Regions from separate parts of the Homo sapiens genome. Here region 2 is linked to region 1. The links come from fine-mapping of genetic effects on plasma protein levels. A gene starts in region 1. The other region holds a variant in brackets. All regions are shown on one strand. Distances are from middle to middle.

Region 1 (8,334 bases):
GCTTCTCTTGGGCTTGTGGTCTGTCTGTTTCTGTTTGTCTGTCTCTCCTTTGTCTCCTTTGTGGCTTGTTTATCTGTCTCAGTGTCTCTGCATCTCTTTGTAAAGTCTTTTTTTTTTTTTTTTTTTTGAGACAGAGTCTTACTCTGTTGCCCCAGCTGGAGTATAGTGGTGTGATCTCAACTCACTTCAACCTCTGCCTCCCATATTCAAGCAATTCTTCTGCCTCAGCCTCCCAAGTAGCTGGGATTACAGGCGCCTGCCACCATATCCAGCTAACTTTTGTATTTTTAGTACAGACAGGATTTCACCATTTTGGCCAGGCTGGTCTTGAACTCCTTACCTCAAGTGATCTGCCTGCCTCGCCTCCCAAAGTGCTGGGATTACAGGCATGAGCCACCCTGCCCAGCCTCTTTGTAGAGTCTTGATTTTTCCTGTTTCTCTTCGTGTTTCACCTCTATGAATCTGTGTCACTGTTTCCCTCTGGGTACACAGTTGACCCTTGAACAACCCTGGTTTGAACTGCACAAGTCCACTTATACTTGGATTTTTTCAATAAACACATTAGAAAAATTTTAGGAGAGTTGCAACAATTTAAAAAAATTCACAGACGAACTGTGTAGCTTAGAAATATCAAAAAATTCCAACAAAGGTATATCATGAATGCATAAAACGTATGCATAAATCGACTATTTATGTTATTGGTAAGGCTCCCCGTCAACAGTAGGCTATTTCTAGTCAGGTTTTTGGGGAGTCAAAAGTTATAAGAGGATTTTCTGTTGGGTGGAGGTCACCGCCCTCAGGCCCCATGCTGTTGGAAGGTCAACTGCATTTCTATGTGTGTGTGTTTCTGCCTCCCCATGTCTGTTTCTGTTTCTCTCTTCCTTTGCTTCTCTTTATTCCTGTGTTTATTTCTCTGTTTCTCTCAGTTTCTCTCTCTAGTTGTCACTGTCTCCCTGTGTGTCTCTCCATCTCTGCATCTCGCCATGCGGCCCTGTGTGTCTCTGTCTCCCCCTTCTCCACCCTTCCCTGAGTCGCCTGCCCTCCCCTTTCCCCTCTCTCACGTTGCAGGAGTCCTTCTGGTCTTGCCCTCCGCCGGCGCAGAACATGCTGGGGTGGTACAGCGGGTCATAGAGCTTACTGCAGACCTCCTCAGACACCACCGACACGTTCACGCACTGCAGCACGGTAGGCATTCTGCCTGGGACGCAGAGCTCTGGGTCAGCCCCCGCGACTGGGCAGAGGACCTCCTTGAAGAGGGCAGACACACACCCGTGAGCTCACCGTTCGCCAGCAGACCCCAGCCAGAAACGAGGCAAGAGTTCCCCGCGGTAGGGCACTGCGAAGCAATGCTGATGCTCCGGATGGTGTCAGACTCGGACACGGATTCGTCCAACTTGATGAGCATGAGGTCGTTAGCGAGCAAGGGTCTGTTGTACTCTGGGTGCCGTACGGAGAGGCTGGCCTCCACCATCTGGCTCCCTGGCTCTTGGTCGGCCTCAAGACTGTGCAGGCCCAGCCCGATGGTGTAGGAGCTGTGGGCCACGGAGGGCAGGTCAGTTTTGTGGCAACTACATCCTTACCTCCATTCTCATCTTCAACCCCATTCCCATCCCCATCTCCTAACCCCAACCCCACCCTCTTCGCTAAACACCCTAAGAGCTACTTAACCATGGTCTCAAATCCTCATTCACAAAAATTCAGGGACAAGAACTTGCCTTAGTTCACTAGAGACTCAGCACTGGGCTGAGATTTCAAGTCAGGACTCTCTGAGTCCTTCCGAAGCAAGATTCCCGCCTCCCAGCCCTTCCCTCTGGGGCTCCCCGGATCCAGGCTCATTCCGTCCTCCTCCCAGAGCCTTCACCGCTGTTTCCCCCTGAGCACCCCAAGATGAGCCTGATATTAGGCCCCGCCCCCGGACCCAGGCCCTGCCCACTCCCCCTACCTCTGCACTCACTTCTGGAAACAGTGTGCGGCTGACAGCACCCACTGCGGATGCACCAGGACGCCCGAGCAGAACAATTCGTTTTCCATGACCAGTGCCGCCTGCCAGGGCTGCGAGTGCGGGCTGCAGTCCTCGCCGTTTATGATTTGGCTGCAGCTACCAGAGACGAGCGATCCTGAGGGCGGAGTCAGGGATGGGATCGGGACCAGGAGGCGGGCCCAGGGTTCCTGGGGGTGGGCTTACCGAGCAGGGGCGTGGTCAGAGGTTCAGGAGCAGTCAGGGCTCCTCGGGGCGGAGTCAGGGCTGGGAACGGGCTCAGGAGGCGGGCCCAGGGCTCTTGGGGGAGGGGTTACCGAGCAGGGGCGTGGTCAGGGCTTCAGGAGCAGTCAGGACTCTTGGGGGGCCGAGTCAGGGCTGGGGGCGGGCCCAGGGGGCGGACCCAGGGCTCCTGGGGGTGGGGTTATGGTGCAGGGGTCATGATCGGAGCTTCAGGGGCTGGTCCAGGATATAGGCCTAGGGCTCCCAGGGGCGGTGATCACGGTGCAGGAGCCTGGTCAGGGATTCAGGGTAGTCAGGGCTCCTGGGAGGAGAGTCAGGGCATGGGGGTGGGCTGAGAAGGCGGGATCAGTGCTCCTAGGGTTGGGGTTACAGCGCAGGGGCGCCATCAAGGCTTCAAGAGCTGGGTTATGGCTAGAGGCAGTCTCAGAAGGTGGGACCAGGGCTTCTGGGGCGGAGTCAGGGCTCTGGGGTGAGCTCTGGAGGTGAGACTGGTGCCATCGCGGTGCAAAGCCACGGTCAGGAGGGGTTCAACAGAGGAGTCTAGGCTCATAGCAGTAGGATCGGGTCCTTCGGGGTGAATTAAAGCTCAGGGGGTGGAGTTGTTGCTGGGAGCAAGGATCGGGTCACTTGTCTGCGCAGACTGATGCTCAAAGAGTCGGTCCTGCGCCGAGTCACTCCTATCCTCTCCCAGCCTTGCCCACAGTCACACCAAGCCACAAGCCCATGCACACCAAAACACCGTTTTATAGTCCTGTGAGGTGAGTTCCTTGGGGATGGGAGAGGGGGATCTCAGGACTGAAGACCCAGGAAGCAGGCACAGATTCCCAGCAATGGATCACGCCCCAGGAAGCACAATCTCCTGCACCCTCGGCTTCCCCTGTCCCCATATCATCATTACACTGTTGTCACTCCACCAGATATTCAGAGGCACAAACTGTCAGAGTCTCACAGGTACAACCACACACCCAGGCACACTGCCACACACAAATTTACCACGATACAAGGAGTTGCAGGGGCACAGCCATGGGGGACGGATAACACGGTACCGTCTCACAGGCAGCTTTGCAGTCACAAGCAAGAGGACACTGAGTCACACCTGAACATTAACAAACACTGTGCCCCCAAGCACGGACAGACACACACACGCATACTCAGATACCTGCGACACCAAGGATGAGGTACCCCAGGAACCAGCCCCAGGGATTTCCTGCTGTGGCCATCACGTCAGCACCTGGGGATGAGGACTGAGACTTAGCCGTGTCTGGGGATCTTCAGCCCAAGTCTCTCCATCCCTCTCTTTGTCCCTCCCTTTCTTCCCTCTGGGACGTTATTAGGTAGGCAAGAGCCTAGACCATCTACCCCCTCTCCCATCCATGGACCCAGAACCTAGAGAGACAGATTTAGAGACTGAGAGAGAAAAAGAGAGAGAGAGATGGGAAAAGAGAGAGAGAGAGAGAACTAGGTAGAAAGGAAAGTTTAGAGAAAGCATCTAGCCATCTGTGAATGGGGAGAGATGGTGTCTAGCCACCCACAAACAAGCATGGAGGGAAGACACACAGAGAATCAGAGCCGGAGAGACAGAGTGCTTGAGAGATATCCTCAGAGACAGTCTGAGAGTTAGACATGGAGATATAGATTCAGAGAGACAGAGAGACCCCTAACTAGAGACAGTGACTCCTAACTAGAGACAGTGAGAGATCTGTCTAGAGAGATGTGGAGACAGAAGGCACAGAGGCTGAGAATCCAGCGACATGGAGCTGTAGGGAGAGTTGGATCATGAACACTGCAGGCTTTTAGTGGGGGACCACCAGGCCTCTTACCCGGCCACCTCTGGGCTCCTGGATTCCACTGCTGGGCTGAGCTCCAGCCTGCTGCCTCCCGCAGGGGCCTCCTTGGGGCTTATAAGCATCCTCAGCCTGGGCTGGCCTGCCCCCAGGGGATGTGTTCCAGGGGTCAGGTGCTGCAAACTTCCAGCTCAACTCTCTCAGGCTGCCTCAACTCTGACCAGGCAGTGGTTGGGGGCCCAGAAGGGGCTGGCAGCAGGGTCTAGGGACCCAGGGAGGAGACCCCTGCCCAGATCCTAGACTCCACTCTCCTTTTTCTTTCTCTCTCTCTCTCTCATTCTTTCTCTTTTCATGTTCTTATTCTCTCTCATGAGATACCTCTCTCTTGCCTGTATCTCTCATTTTCTCTTTCTCTTCTTCTTTCTTTCTCTCATTCTCTCTCTCATTATTTTTCTCGTGTTTTCTTTCATTTCCTCTCATTCTCTCCTGTTCTCTCTCATGTTCTTTCTCTTTTTAAATTAAATCTCTCTCTCTCTCTCCCCTCCTCCTTCATCCCTCTCTTTCTGTGCTTCTCCAGCAAATTTCCCCAGGTTCGTATCCAGCCTACATCACGAACTATTTTTGGAACCTTGGGCAAGTGACTGCACCCCTGTGAGCCTGTTTTTCCAACTGTAAAACTGGAGTGACCATTATGCCCCATTTCCCAAGTGGATTCAAAGAGGTAATTCAGGGAAAGGCACACAGTGCCAGGCACATTGTAGGCTCTCGGTGAGCGGGAGAACTAAAAAGTCTTCGCTCAGTGAAAAGCAGCTGAGTGCCTACCACACTCCGAGCTCTGCGGCAGGTGCTGGGGCCACAGGAGGAACCAGCAAAGTCCTCGTCACTGGGGATCGCGTCCTACCCGGGGGCACAGACCATAAAGGAAAACTGCAGGGACCAGCATATAAGGTGGTGGTCGGGGAGACTCAGAGAAGGGGAACATTTAAGCTGAGATCCCAGGGAAGAGGAGGAGGAGGGTCGCCGCAGCAGGGGCGGTTGCGGGGTGCAGGGGAGAACTTGGCTCCAGCCAGAGGAGGGCAGGGCGGGTAGGAGGGCAGGGCGGGTAGGAGCGCAGACCGGGAACCGGGCGGGCCTGCAGGAGTTTACGTACCAGGATTAAGGAGCTTGGGTTTTACTTAAGTGCAATGGATTTTAAGCACGAGGATGGAGTGACATAATCTTATTTACTTTTTAAAAACTTCCAGCTTGGAGAGTGATGGTGGGGGCGGGGCGGGGGGCAGTGGCAACAGCCCAGGTGGGAGGTGACGGGGTCAAGGGAGAAGAGAGGTGAATGGACACGGGGTCCCCTCTGCATGTGGAGCCAAGTTACTGCCCGATGGATGGAAAGTGGGGGGCCAGGAGCAGAGGGGCCAAGGATGGCGTGGAGGCTTGGTCTGCTGGCTTGCGCTCTACGGATCTTGTGGAGACGCATAGGTGCGGGAAGGGGGGTGGGGGGTGAGAGGGTGCCGTAGACCGCGGAGGGTGCACGGAGGGGCAGGCCGAGGTCAGGACTGCCGAGAAACAGCGGGGACTCATCAGGGGAGAGGTGGTGTTTACAGCCACGAGGCCGGGTGAGATCATCCAAGGAGTGGGTGGGTGTAGACCGCGGAGCCGGCGCGGGTGAGGGATAGTGCCCGCAGGTGACCGCGACGAGGCAGGAATGTCTCTGTGTCTCTCTGTCTCTCCTGGGTCTCTAACACTCTTTCCTTCTCCTTCCTTACTTCTTTCCCCCACAGCCCACCCCGTGTGTCTGTCTCTCTTTCTCTCTGGCTCTCTTTTCCTCTGCCTCTCTGGTCCCATCTCTGTCTCTCTCCCCCTTGTCTCTGTTTCTCTCACCTGCCAGACTGGAAGCATCCCAAGTGAGACCCTCCCCCAACTCTGTCCTGGGCCCGTGCGCCCCCAGATAACTCTGGGCAGGACGGGACATAGGCTGGGACCACAGAACAGGAAGCCCTGGCAGGTTTCTGTCTCTGTCTCTCTTTTCCCTGTCCCTGTCCCTTTCTCTCTCTGATCCCTTCTCTCTCGCTCTCCCTCTGACCTCTGTCTGTGACCCTCTGATCTCTGTCTGTCTCTGTCTGCCCCTGTGTGTCTCTCTTTCCTCCTGTCTCTGTCTCACCTTGCCTTCTCTCTCTGTCTGTGTCTCTGCACCTGTGTCTGTCCATCTTTCTCTGTGTCTCTCTCCTCCCATCTCTGTCTCTGTCTGTGGCTCCGCACCTGTCTCTGTCCATCTTTCTCTGTGTCTCTCTCCTCCCATCTCTGTCTCTGTCTCTCTGTCTGTCTCCGCACCTGTCTGTCCATCTTTCTCTGTGTCTCTCTCCTCCCATCTCTGTCTCTGTCTCTCTGTCTGTCTCTGCACCTGTGTCTGTCCATCTTTCTCTGTGTCTCTCTCCTCCCATCTCTGTCTCTGTCTCTCTGTCTGTGTCTCCGCACCTGTGTGTCTGTCCATCTTTCTCTGTGTCTCTCTCTCCTCCCATCTCTGTCTCTGTCTCTCTGTCTGTGTCTCCGCACCTGTGTCTCTGTCCATCTTTCTCTGTGTCTCTCTCTCCTCCCATCTCTGTCTCTGTCTCTCTGTCTGTGGCTTCGCACCTGTCTCTGTCCATCTTTCTCTGTGTCTCTCTCTCCTCCCATCTCTGTCTCTGTCTCTCTGTCTGTGTCTCCGCACCTGTGTGTCTGTCCATCTTTCTCTGTCTCTCTCTCCTCCCATCTCTGTCTCTGTCTCTCTGTCTGTCTCCGCACCTGTCTGTCCATCTTTCTCTGTGTCTCTCTCCTCCCATCTCTGTCTCTGTCTCTCTGTCTGTCTCTGCACCTGTGTCTGTCCATCTTTCTCTGTGTCTCTCTCCTCCCATCTCTGTCTCTGTCTCTCTGTCTGTGTCTCCGCACCTGTGTGTCTGTCCATCTTTCTCTGTGTCTCTCTCCTCCCATCTCTGTCTCTGTCTCTCTGTCTGTGTCTCCGCACCTGTGTCTCTGTCCATCTTTCTCTGTGTCTCTCTCTCTCCTCCCATCTCTGTCTCTGTCTCTCTGTCTGTGGCTTCGCACATGTCTCTGTCCATCTTTCTCTGTGTCTCTCTCTCCTCCCATCTCTGTCTCTGTCTCTCTGTCTGTGTCTCCGCACCTGTGTGTCTGTCCATCTTTCTCTGTGTCTCTCTCCTCCCATCTCTGTCTCTGTCTCTCTGTCTGTGTCTCCGCACCTGTCTCTGTCCATCTTTCTCTGTGTCTCTCTCCTCCCATCTCTGTCTCTGTCTCTCTGTCTGTGGCTCTGCACCTTTGTCTCTGTCTATCTTTCTCTGTCTCCACTTTCCTCCTGTCTTCTCTCATGTTGCTCTGTCTTTGTTTTCCATGCGCTTCCAACACTTCTCCCTTCGCTCTCTTCATTGTGTCTCAACTCAAGTGTTACTTCTTCAGAGCCCTTCCCTGAGCCCTCCCCTAGTCTGATTCAGGGTCTTCACTCCCCTATTTGTTTTTTCATCTTATAGCATCCTACATGCTCCTTTAGAGAATTTGGTACAATGTATACACGTATTATTATGTGTTTCTTTTTCTTTTTTTTTCTTTTTTGTTTGTTTGTTTGTTTCTTTGAGATGGAGTCTCACTGTGTTACCCAGGCTGGAGTAGAGTGGTGCGATCTCTGCTCACTGCAACCTCCGCCCCCCGGGTTCAAGCGATTCTCCTGCCTCAGCCTCCCCAGTAACTGGGATTATAGGTGCCTGCCACCAATTCTGGCTAATTTTTGTATTTTTAGTAGAGATGGGGTTTCACCATGTTGGCTAGGCTGGTCTCAAACTCCTGACTTCAGGTGATCCGCCCACCTTGGCCTCCCAAAGTGCTGGGATTACAGGCGAGAGCCACCGCGCCCGTCTTGTGTGTTTATTTTTCTAGTAGCTGTTTCTTTCATTAGTGTGGGAGCCCCTTGGGGACAGGGCTGGTGTCTGTTATGTTCACTGATAAAAACTATTCACTGCAGATGTGTTGAGTGGATGGATAAAGGGAGATACAAAAATAGAGAGAGACAGACAGGAGAGGGAGAGATGAAGGCTGACGGAGAGAGAAAATAACAACAGACAACAATGGTAGCTTACTATTAATTAACCTTTAGAATATGTTAAATTAATTGTAAGGAGGTCAAGAACTTACCTTATGTCTGGCCCTCTTCTAAGTATTTTAAATGCAATAACAAATGTATTCCTCAAAAAAATCTAAGAAGTAGATGCTGCTATGAACTTTGTTTGACAGATGGAGAAACTGAGGCACAGAGAGGGTAAGTAGTTTACCAAGGTCACAGAAAGACTGAGG
Region 2 (8,334 bases), 22 kb before region 1:
TATTATCGAGTAAGATAATGTTAGTACCTTTGCTCAAAATACATATAGAAATGTAAGAGACTCGTGGAAATTTGTCACTCACTACTCAGCTCCTGGCCTCCACCCTTCTCTGCTGGAGAGCCCCCCCTTTCTTCCCTTCCACCTCTCACTCACTGCACGTTCCTCCAGTTCTCCCAGTGTTCTGGGCCCTGTTTATGCCCATGGTAGATATAACAACAGTAATTCAATCGGGATGAGCAAACCCTGCCCTACTCTTCGGTGCATATGTGTGTGTGACTTTGACTTTGAAGGTCCTTTGACTTTGAAATGTCTCTGTTTGGTATCTGTGCATAGTGAAGCTCTGTGTGTGCATGTACATGGGTGGTGGGAGTGTGAGGCTCTGTCTGTCCACTACCTGCCCATATGTGTGCATTTGTCCTCAAATGCAAAACCTGATGAGTCACCTTCAATACCAAGTATCTCTGATGTGGGCACTGATCCAGACGTAGATTATTTCCTTTCCTGGCTGCCTGTGTCTCTAGCTACACCTTTGACCTTGAATGGCCAACCGTGTGTCTGGGTACTACCCTGGCATCTGCTCTAGTGGGTCCATATCCGAATGCCTGGCCTCTGGGACTGCGCCTGCAACTTTGAATCACCGCACACTGGCTTCTGCATGAATCGCAGTGTTGACCTTGACTGTCATATCCGGTCCTGTGATTATGTCTGAATTACTTCGGCCATATTTGTTTCTCAAATCTGAATATCCACAGATGCTATGTATCTCCCACCCATCTAACCTTTACAGCAACCTCCAATTTACAGACGAAATGGAGGCACAGTGAGATCAAAGAATTTTCTCAAAGTCTCAAAGCTGATATTTTTGAATGCAGGTGGTCAGACTCTGGATATAACCACCATACTCATGTCTGTGAATCAGTGTCTGGGACTCTGAGTGCATATCCCTGTCTCTTCCCTTTGTAATCTTATTAAAGACCCAACCTTGTACATCCAGACCCTGTGTGCAAGTGTGTACCCACGTGACCTTGCACACCCAGAGCCACACTGGAGGTTATGAATTTAGGTTTGAGCTCTTATGTCCAAATCTGTGTCTATGAATGTGTATGTGTGTGCTTACACCCATGCCTGTCCATATTTATATGCACATGTGATCACTTGGGCTCTTATTATATAAGCCACACGTACATGCATATGAATTTCTGCTTAAGGCACACAGTCTATATATGTATCCAAGCCTGGAAACCATCTTGTGCCTGTATGTATGTCCATGACCTTGTGTGGTCACATATGTGTCCTTCCCTGGCATGCTGAGTTTGGCTTAGATCTCCAGATTCTGAGGCCAAGAATGCTACCGTACAAATTGAATGGACACGTCTGTTTGAGGTCTCTGACATATGAAAGCAACCGTCTGTCTAAACCTGTATCCAGTGAACCTGTCTCCATCTCCAATCACAGAGGGAATTTTGCCCTCTGGTCCTTCATTTCCCTTCTGTCTGTCTCTCTCTGGCTCTCAGGAACCTATCACATGTAGGATAGGAGATGAAAGGAGAAGTTCTGGAAAAACAGGCTGCAGCTGTAAAACCTAAAGAGAGGAGAGTGCTTCAAAAATAACAGAGGCTGGGCACAGTGGCTCACTCCTGTAATCCCAGCATTCTGGGAGGCCAAGGCAGGCGGATCACGAGGTCAGGAGATCGAGACCATCCTGGCTAACATGGTGAAACCCGGTCTGTACTAAAAAAACAAAAAACAAAAAACAAAAAACGAAAAACATTAGCTGGGCGTGGTGGCATGCGCCTGTACTCCCAGCTACTCGGGAGGCTGAGGCAGGAGAATCGCTTGAACCTGGGAGGCAGAGGTTGTAGTGAGCCGAGATTGCACCACTGCACTCCAGCCTGGGCAACAGAGCAAGACTGTCTCAAAAACAAAACAAAACAAAACAAAAAAGCAAACAAAACTAACTCCCCCAAAAACCAAAGACTTCCGGATAAATTGTGGGAAAAGCATATGTGAATGGTTTTCACATATGTAGGTACTGTAGGGCACTGGGAAGGGTGGCCACATAGGAAGAAGTCTCTGTTCTCAGGGATCCTCTATTCCTTTCCGCAGAGGCTCAGGATGGCAATGGGGAGGTGTGGGGAGGGGTGAGAGAGACTCGAGAGAGAGAGAGAGATGGGCAGAGAGATGGGGACTGAGATACACAATGACAGAGATGGCCGAGAGAGAGAGATGGGCAGAGAGATGGGGGCTGAGATACACAATGACAGAGATGGCCAAGAGAGATGCAGAGAAAAACAGAGACGGGGAGACACAGAGACAAGAGACAGAGAAGAGAGAGGGAGATCAAGGCCGAAACACAGCCACACAGACACAGCAGAGCCATATACCAAGAGACACAGAGAGACTAGATGGACAGATATACGGTGAGAGACCAAGGCAGCCCCCAGGAAGGTGGTCCCCAATGCCTGTTCATGCAACCTGAACCAGAACCTTCCCTGTCTCTCTCCCTCTGTCCCCAGCCTCATCTGAGGGGAAATGCCCAACTGTTATTCCTGTGGGGCACAGACACCCCTCCCCAGACCCCAGGTCCCCACTCACCGGGTGATGCAGTGAGCAGTAGTGAGCACCCAGTGAGGATGCAGCAGGACGTCCTTGCACTGGAAGTTGCCGAAATGGTACAACCCTGCCAGGGTTGGGAAAGCTTCTCACACTCCCAGCCTCCCACAGTCTGGGACTGGATGGCAATCACAGCATCTGCAGAGGGAGTGCTGGGTCAGGGAGGGCAGGCTTGGCAGGAGGGCCCAGGGACTGGGCTAAGAGAGGGAGCTGGGCTGTGGGTTTGAAGGGGGCAGAGGACCAGGGCTGGGGATCCAGGGACACAGGAGGGCCTGAGATTCTGGACCATTCCTTGGGGTTTGGGTTGGTGGCTGTTCCTGGTGGGGAGACTTTGCTCTGAGAGCAGGGCAAACCCCAGGGATTAGGGTAGGAGACATGAGATTGCCTGGAGCAGGCATTGGGTTGGGAGCAAAGTATGTGGGGTGATTTGGGGTCTTGTCTAGGAGGCTGTGGTGGGGAGATGAAGGACAGAGTGCTTGTGGGTTTATGAGCTTCTTGAGTCTGGGATGTCCTGCTCCTATGGACAGGGGACATTTTCCCAAGTTAGCAGTTTTTTCAGCCAAATTACCTAATATGATGCTACACCCAGATCAGGGTGGCAGGAGAAGAGTCAGGAATGGGGACCTAGGGACAGACACCTGATCCAGTCCCCAAGGCTTCTCCTCTTCCTGGTCAGCACTCTCTGAAGACAGTGGGTCTCTTCTCTACTGGTTCCATGTCTCTGCCATTAGCTCAGATTCCATCTTCTTGTCCTTGTCTTTCCGTCTCCATCTCTGTCTGTCTCTTTGCATGTGTATATTTGTGTGTGTGTATCTTATTTTTTTTCTGTTTCTCTAAAAATCCTGTCTGAGAGAAACTTTACTAGTTGTTCTAGAGGAAGGAAGTCTTAAGGATGAGCTTTCTGAATTAGTTCTGGCATTTCTAGTGTTTGGAATTGGTTCTGTAATGCGAATAAATTAAAGGCACCACAACTCTATTTTCAGTAATACAAACAGAAATAAAAGTCCGTGGTGTAATGTGGCAATAGAGATATGCAAAATAACACCACTGGATATTCCGAATCAAATAAAGGAGAAATGACCAGGGTGATCATGTATATGACACTTTAGAATATTTTTTAAAGTAACAAGCATAATGAAATTGGATGATTGCTTCTAGTTGTGTTGGCAAAAGTGGAAAAAGAAAAGAATGAGCACAGGACTTTAAATTTCCAGATCTCAGACTGAAGAAATAATCTAAAGTTGCTATGTCTATGATGTTGAAAGAAACCTTTATCTCCTGTAGCCACAGAGCTGAGATTTCTGAAAATCAAACCTAGAATCTTATTGTGTGAGTGGCTGAATTACAGTGCTAATTAAATCCTCAGCATGCATGCTGTCTGCCATTAAAGTGAAGGCATAATTGAAAGGGTAGGGATCCCAAAAGTTGGAATGAAGACATGTGGGAAGACTCTGATTATGGTCAGGAGACTGGGGAAAGGGTCTAGTTAGAGGATGTGGCCTGAGGCTTTAAAAATGAAGATCCAGGGGACAGATAGAATGTGGCCAGTGTCTGGCAGGATGTGGGGCACTTGGCATCTATCCTGGTGCCTGAGGAAGCAGTGAACTCTCCCAAGAGGGAGAACCCAAGAGGAAGAGCATGTTGGGGAGGAGGAGAGACAAATGGCGAAAGGAAATTTATTATGCCAAAGGTGGGATGAATTTGTATCTGGAAGGATCCAGCTAGAGCCAAGAAGGTTCAGCTTCAGCTTGGCTTACACTATCCCCAGAAAAGTTCAACTCAGCCTTGTTCCCTCTTCTGTTATTTTGCTGTGCCCAGCTGGGGCCCCTCCTAACTCCAAGGGCCAAGAAAGTTCAACTTCAGCTTGGCTTACACTGCCCTCAAAAAAGTTCAACCTAGCCTTGGTCCCTCTTCTGTCATGTGGCTGTGCCCAGCTGGGGCCCCTCCTACCTCCCACCCTTCCATCTCCAGCTGGACAGGTGCAGCCTTAGTGCCCAACTGTTTGTCAAAAACTCTGAAGGGGCTGATATTTTGCCAACTGGCAAACAAATAAGTTAGCCTGCCACAGTTTTATGGATACTGGCAGAACACACTGGATTCTGGATCAAAGGCAAAGGACTTTATT[A/G]CTCACAGCACAGAAGACAGCATGAGCTTTGTGTTCACATCAGTTCGCCTTGACCCTAAGTCCCACAGGAATGATCAGAGAAGTTTAGGAGGATCCTGTGACACGATGCTTTGACCCACAGCTGAGAAACCTGAGCTTAGGAATCCTGAATCGTATGAAGGGACTATTAATATTTGTCCGAGAGGGAGACACATTCTTCGTTATCCCGACCACAAACAGACCTGCTCTGGAGGAACATACTATATTTATTGTACTGAACACTAAACAAATCTGCTTTAAGGGACACATTATTACACTGGTCGGTAAGCAAAGCTGTTTTGTTGAAAATACCATTTGCAAGATGGCTTGCTAGCCAAACATCCTTGATAGTCCAAAGCAATTTTTTTTTCACTTTGAAGCCATGTAGAAACATGAGAGGCCCATGGAGAATTTTCTCTCAGAATCATAATTTAAATTCTCTAACCTTCCCTGCAAAACAAACTTATACTTTCTTCCTTATACCCCTTGTCTGCCACATCTGTTACCCTAGCCTCACCAGTGTGCCAGGCCCAGTTCCCAAAGATGGCAGGAAAAATATGGGGATCTGATCTGGATGTGCCCTATTGTTGCTGTCTGTTTATGTGTGGATTTGACTTTGAGGGGACATATCCACGTTTCCCAGTGTAGAGGCTCAGGGTCTTCTGACTGTGAAAAGTCCTTGTTTGGTACTTGTGCGTAGTGCAGTTCTGTGTGCGTGTGTGTGTGTTGTGTGTGTGTGTATGTGCATGCACATGTGTATGTGGTGGGTGTGCAAGGCCCTGCTGTCCACTACCTGCCCACACATGTGAGCCATGTCCCCATATGGGAAAACTGATGAGTAACCTTCAACACCAAGTGTCTGACTTGGGGGGTGATCTAGAGACAGATAAATCTTTCCTGTCCCAGCTGCCTGTGTCTCCAGAATATGTCTTTCCCCATAAATGCCCAACTCTGTGTCTGGGAGTAGCCAGGAATCTAACCTATGAAGCTGTATTTGAATGTCTGGCCCTTGGGGTTGGTGTCTGCAACTCTGAATCACCACTAAGTGGTTTTATGGATGAATCACAGTATTAGCTTTGACTAACTTTATCTGGGTCTGCACATATGTCTGATTTTGGCTATATTTGTTTTCAAAATCTGAACGTGCACACGTATGTACCATAACTAAGTCATGTGTCCTTGATTAAAATAACTGATATTTATTACTATGCATTACAGTTACTGTGTGCCAGGCATTATCATGCACACCCACACACAGGCATACACACAAAGACACATTTTTCTATTTAAGTCTTAAGGAAACCCCCATGAACAAATGAGGAAATGGAAAGACATTGAGGTCAAATAATTTTCTCAAAGATTCAGAAATAATATGTTTGATCCCAGGTGGTCATACTTTTGGATACAACCACCATACTATAGACCCATGTCTGTGAATTGCTTTTGGAGGGGCTACTCAGGATATGTCCCCTCAAAGTCAAACCCAACACTGCATATCAGTGTCTCTCTCCTGTGTACCTTTACTAAGGCCCCCACCTTGTACGTTCAGACCTTGTGTGCAAGTGTGTGCAACTGGAACACTGGGTATCCAGACCTACAGTGGAGTGTAGATTTTGGTCCAAGCTTCTATGTCCAAAGCTCTGTGTGTGTGTGTGTGTGCGCGTGTGTGCGCGTGTGTATGCACACATACACCTATGTCTTTTTTTTTTGAGACAGAGTTTTGCTCTTGTTGCCCAGGCTGAAGTGCAATGGCATGATCTTGGCTCAAGTCAACCTCTGCCTCCCTGGTTCAAGCTATTCTCCTGTGTCAGCCTCCCGAGTAGCTGGGATTACAGGCATGTGCCACCATGCCTGGCTAATTTTGTATTTTTAGTAGAGAAGGGGTTTCTCCATGTTGGTCAGGCTGGTCTTGAACTCCCAATCTGAGGTCATCCACCCACGTTGGCCTCCCAAAGTACTGGCATTACAGGCGTGAGCCACTGTGCCTAGCCACACCCATGTCTTAACTGTCCACACTTACATACAAATATCAATGTCCATATAGTGACCCTCGAAGCTGAGATCTATTTATATGTTACGTGAAGGTAAGCTGTAAATGCTGTACCTACCAATACCTAAGTTTGAAAGTCTGGTTGTGCATATATGTAGGTCCACAATCTAGTATGGCCACATCTGTGCCCTTGTATGACCCTGAGTTTGGCCGAGATACCCAAACTCTGGGACCAAATTTGTGTGTCATACATACTGAGTGTCACATCCATTTAATATCTGTGACAGATGAATGAGCCTGAATGACTGGCTCCAAGTGACCACTTGTCTGAACTCACTGTATCCAGTGACCTTATCTTCATCCCCAACCACAGAGAACTTCTTGCCCTCTGGTCTTTTCCCCTTTCTCTCTCTTTTGGGAACCTATAACACATGAGATGGGTGGTGGGAACAAAAAAGGATACAGTTCCAGGGAAAAGAGGCAAAAGTTTTTTAAAGCTAGAGAGAAAACAGTATTTTAAAAACATATCAGAGGCTCCTGGAGAAACTGAGGGGAAGGCATAAGTGAAGAATATGTAGGTAGATAAGGGCACAGTCAGGGAATAGGAGGTGAGAAGGACCCTGTCCTCATGGATCCTCTACTCCCATCCCAGAGGCCTAGGACGGTGACTAGGTCCTGGGAACTGAGGAGTGTATGCTCTGCTCCCAATCTTGGCAAGTGATTTTCTTTGAATGTGGACATTTTAACTGTGGTCCTTCATGCACTGTCCCCCGCTGTGAGCTCTCTGAGGCCCACTACCAAACCTGGTAAGAAGGCAGGGGTCAGGGTCCTGAAAAACGTGGCTGGGAGTAGGAACCCATGGGTTCTGTACCTGGAGTTGGAGAAGGCTGAAAGCCGGGAGTCCAAGGTCTTGGAGAAGGAAAATGTTGGGATTCTGGACTCCTGTATTTTAATGGGTTGGGGAGAGAGTCCTTGACTCCTCTGAGGACAAAAGTACTGGAGCTTGGGGACTACAGCCCAATGGGTGTGTGCCCACACATTGGAACTCTTAGCTATCTGAGAGGCAGGAGTAGGGGCCATTGGTACCAGGGCCTCAGGAGGTGGTAAGTGGAATTTCAGATTATCACAGGGCTTGGGGATCCCAGATTGCTAACATTTGGGTCTTTCTGTCTACTCCACACTCAGCTTGTGGGTAACCACTGGCCTGCTAGCTCCCTATAGTTGCTGGGCCAGCAGGAGCCCGACGAGCAGGAACTGCGCAAGCGCGCTGGTTCTAAACAGCTGAAGGGCGTTTGGCGCATCTTCTGACATCATCAGCACTATGAGGATCCCGGCGCACCACTATGGCGTCACTTCGGCGCAACTAGCCCACCATCACCCGTGCGCCTCTCCAGTCACATGTATCACATGGCACTGCCCACGTCTGCCCCCTTGTGGGTGTGTCCAACATGGTGGCTGACTTAGGCTTTGTGTCCATAGGGAGGAGCCTAGGACCACAGGGAGGCTTGGGTCACAAGATGCTTGAGAAAAGCCAGATGTGTCCAGTCTATGAAACCTGAAATACATGGCTTTTGGGAAGAGGGGCAGG

Alleles and levels. Alleles are on the strand shown, and positions count from the first base shown. The strength of an association depends on the size of the effect and on how common the allele is.
In carriers of allele G in region 2, the plasma level of the protein whose gene starts at base 4,098 in region 1 tends to be lower than with A alone (strong association).

The links. A credible set is the group of variants that fine-mapping cannot tell apart. PIP is the chance, under the fine-mapping model, that this variant and not a neighbour inherited with it causes the effect. The UK Biobank Pharma Proteomics Project read protein levels with antibody pairs (Olink). The fine-mapping took linkage between variants from a reference panel, not from the people measured, so its PIPs are less certain.
Region 2: its variant is the best candidate, but not a certain one, in a credible set for the plasma level of the KLK4 protein (UK Biobank, PIP 0.57).

What each region holds. Positions count from the first base shown.
Region 1 is chr19:50,907,298-50,915,631 of GRCh38, forward strand. It overlaps KLK4 (kallikrein related peptidase 4), which reads right to left and starts at 4,098. Exons shown (of 6, transcript NM_004917.5): 1 at 4,042-4,098; 2 at 3,381-3,452; 3 at 1,955-2,117; 4 at 1,282-1,532; 5 at 1,062-1,198. The coding sequence starts at 3,441.
Region 2 is chr19:50,885,124-50,893,457 of GRCh38, forward strand. It overlaps the pseudogene KLKP1. Among named protein-coding and RNA genes, the nearest start is that of KLK2, 16 kb to the left of the region's middle. RefSeq lists enhancers at 5,948-5,997, 6,068-6,177. The variant A/G (reference allele first, on the strand shown) is at 4,739.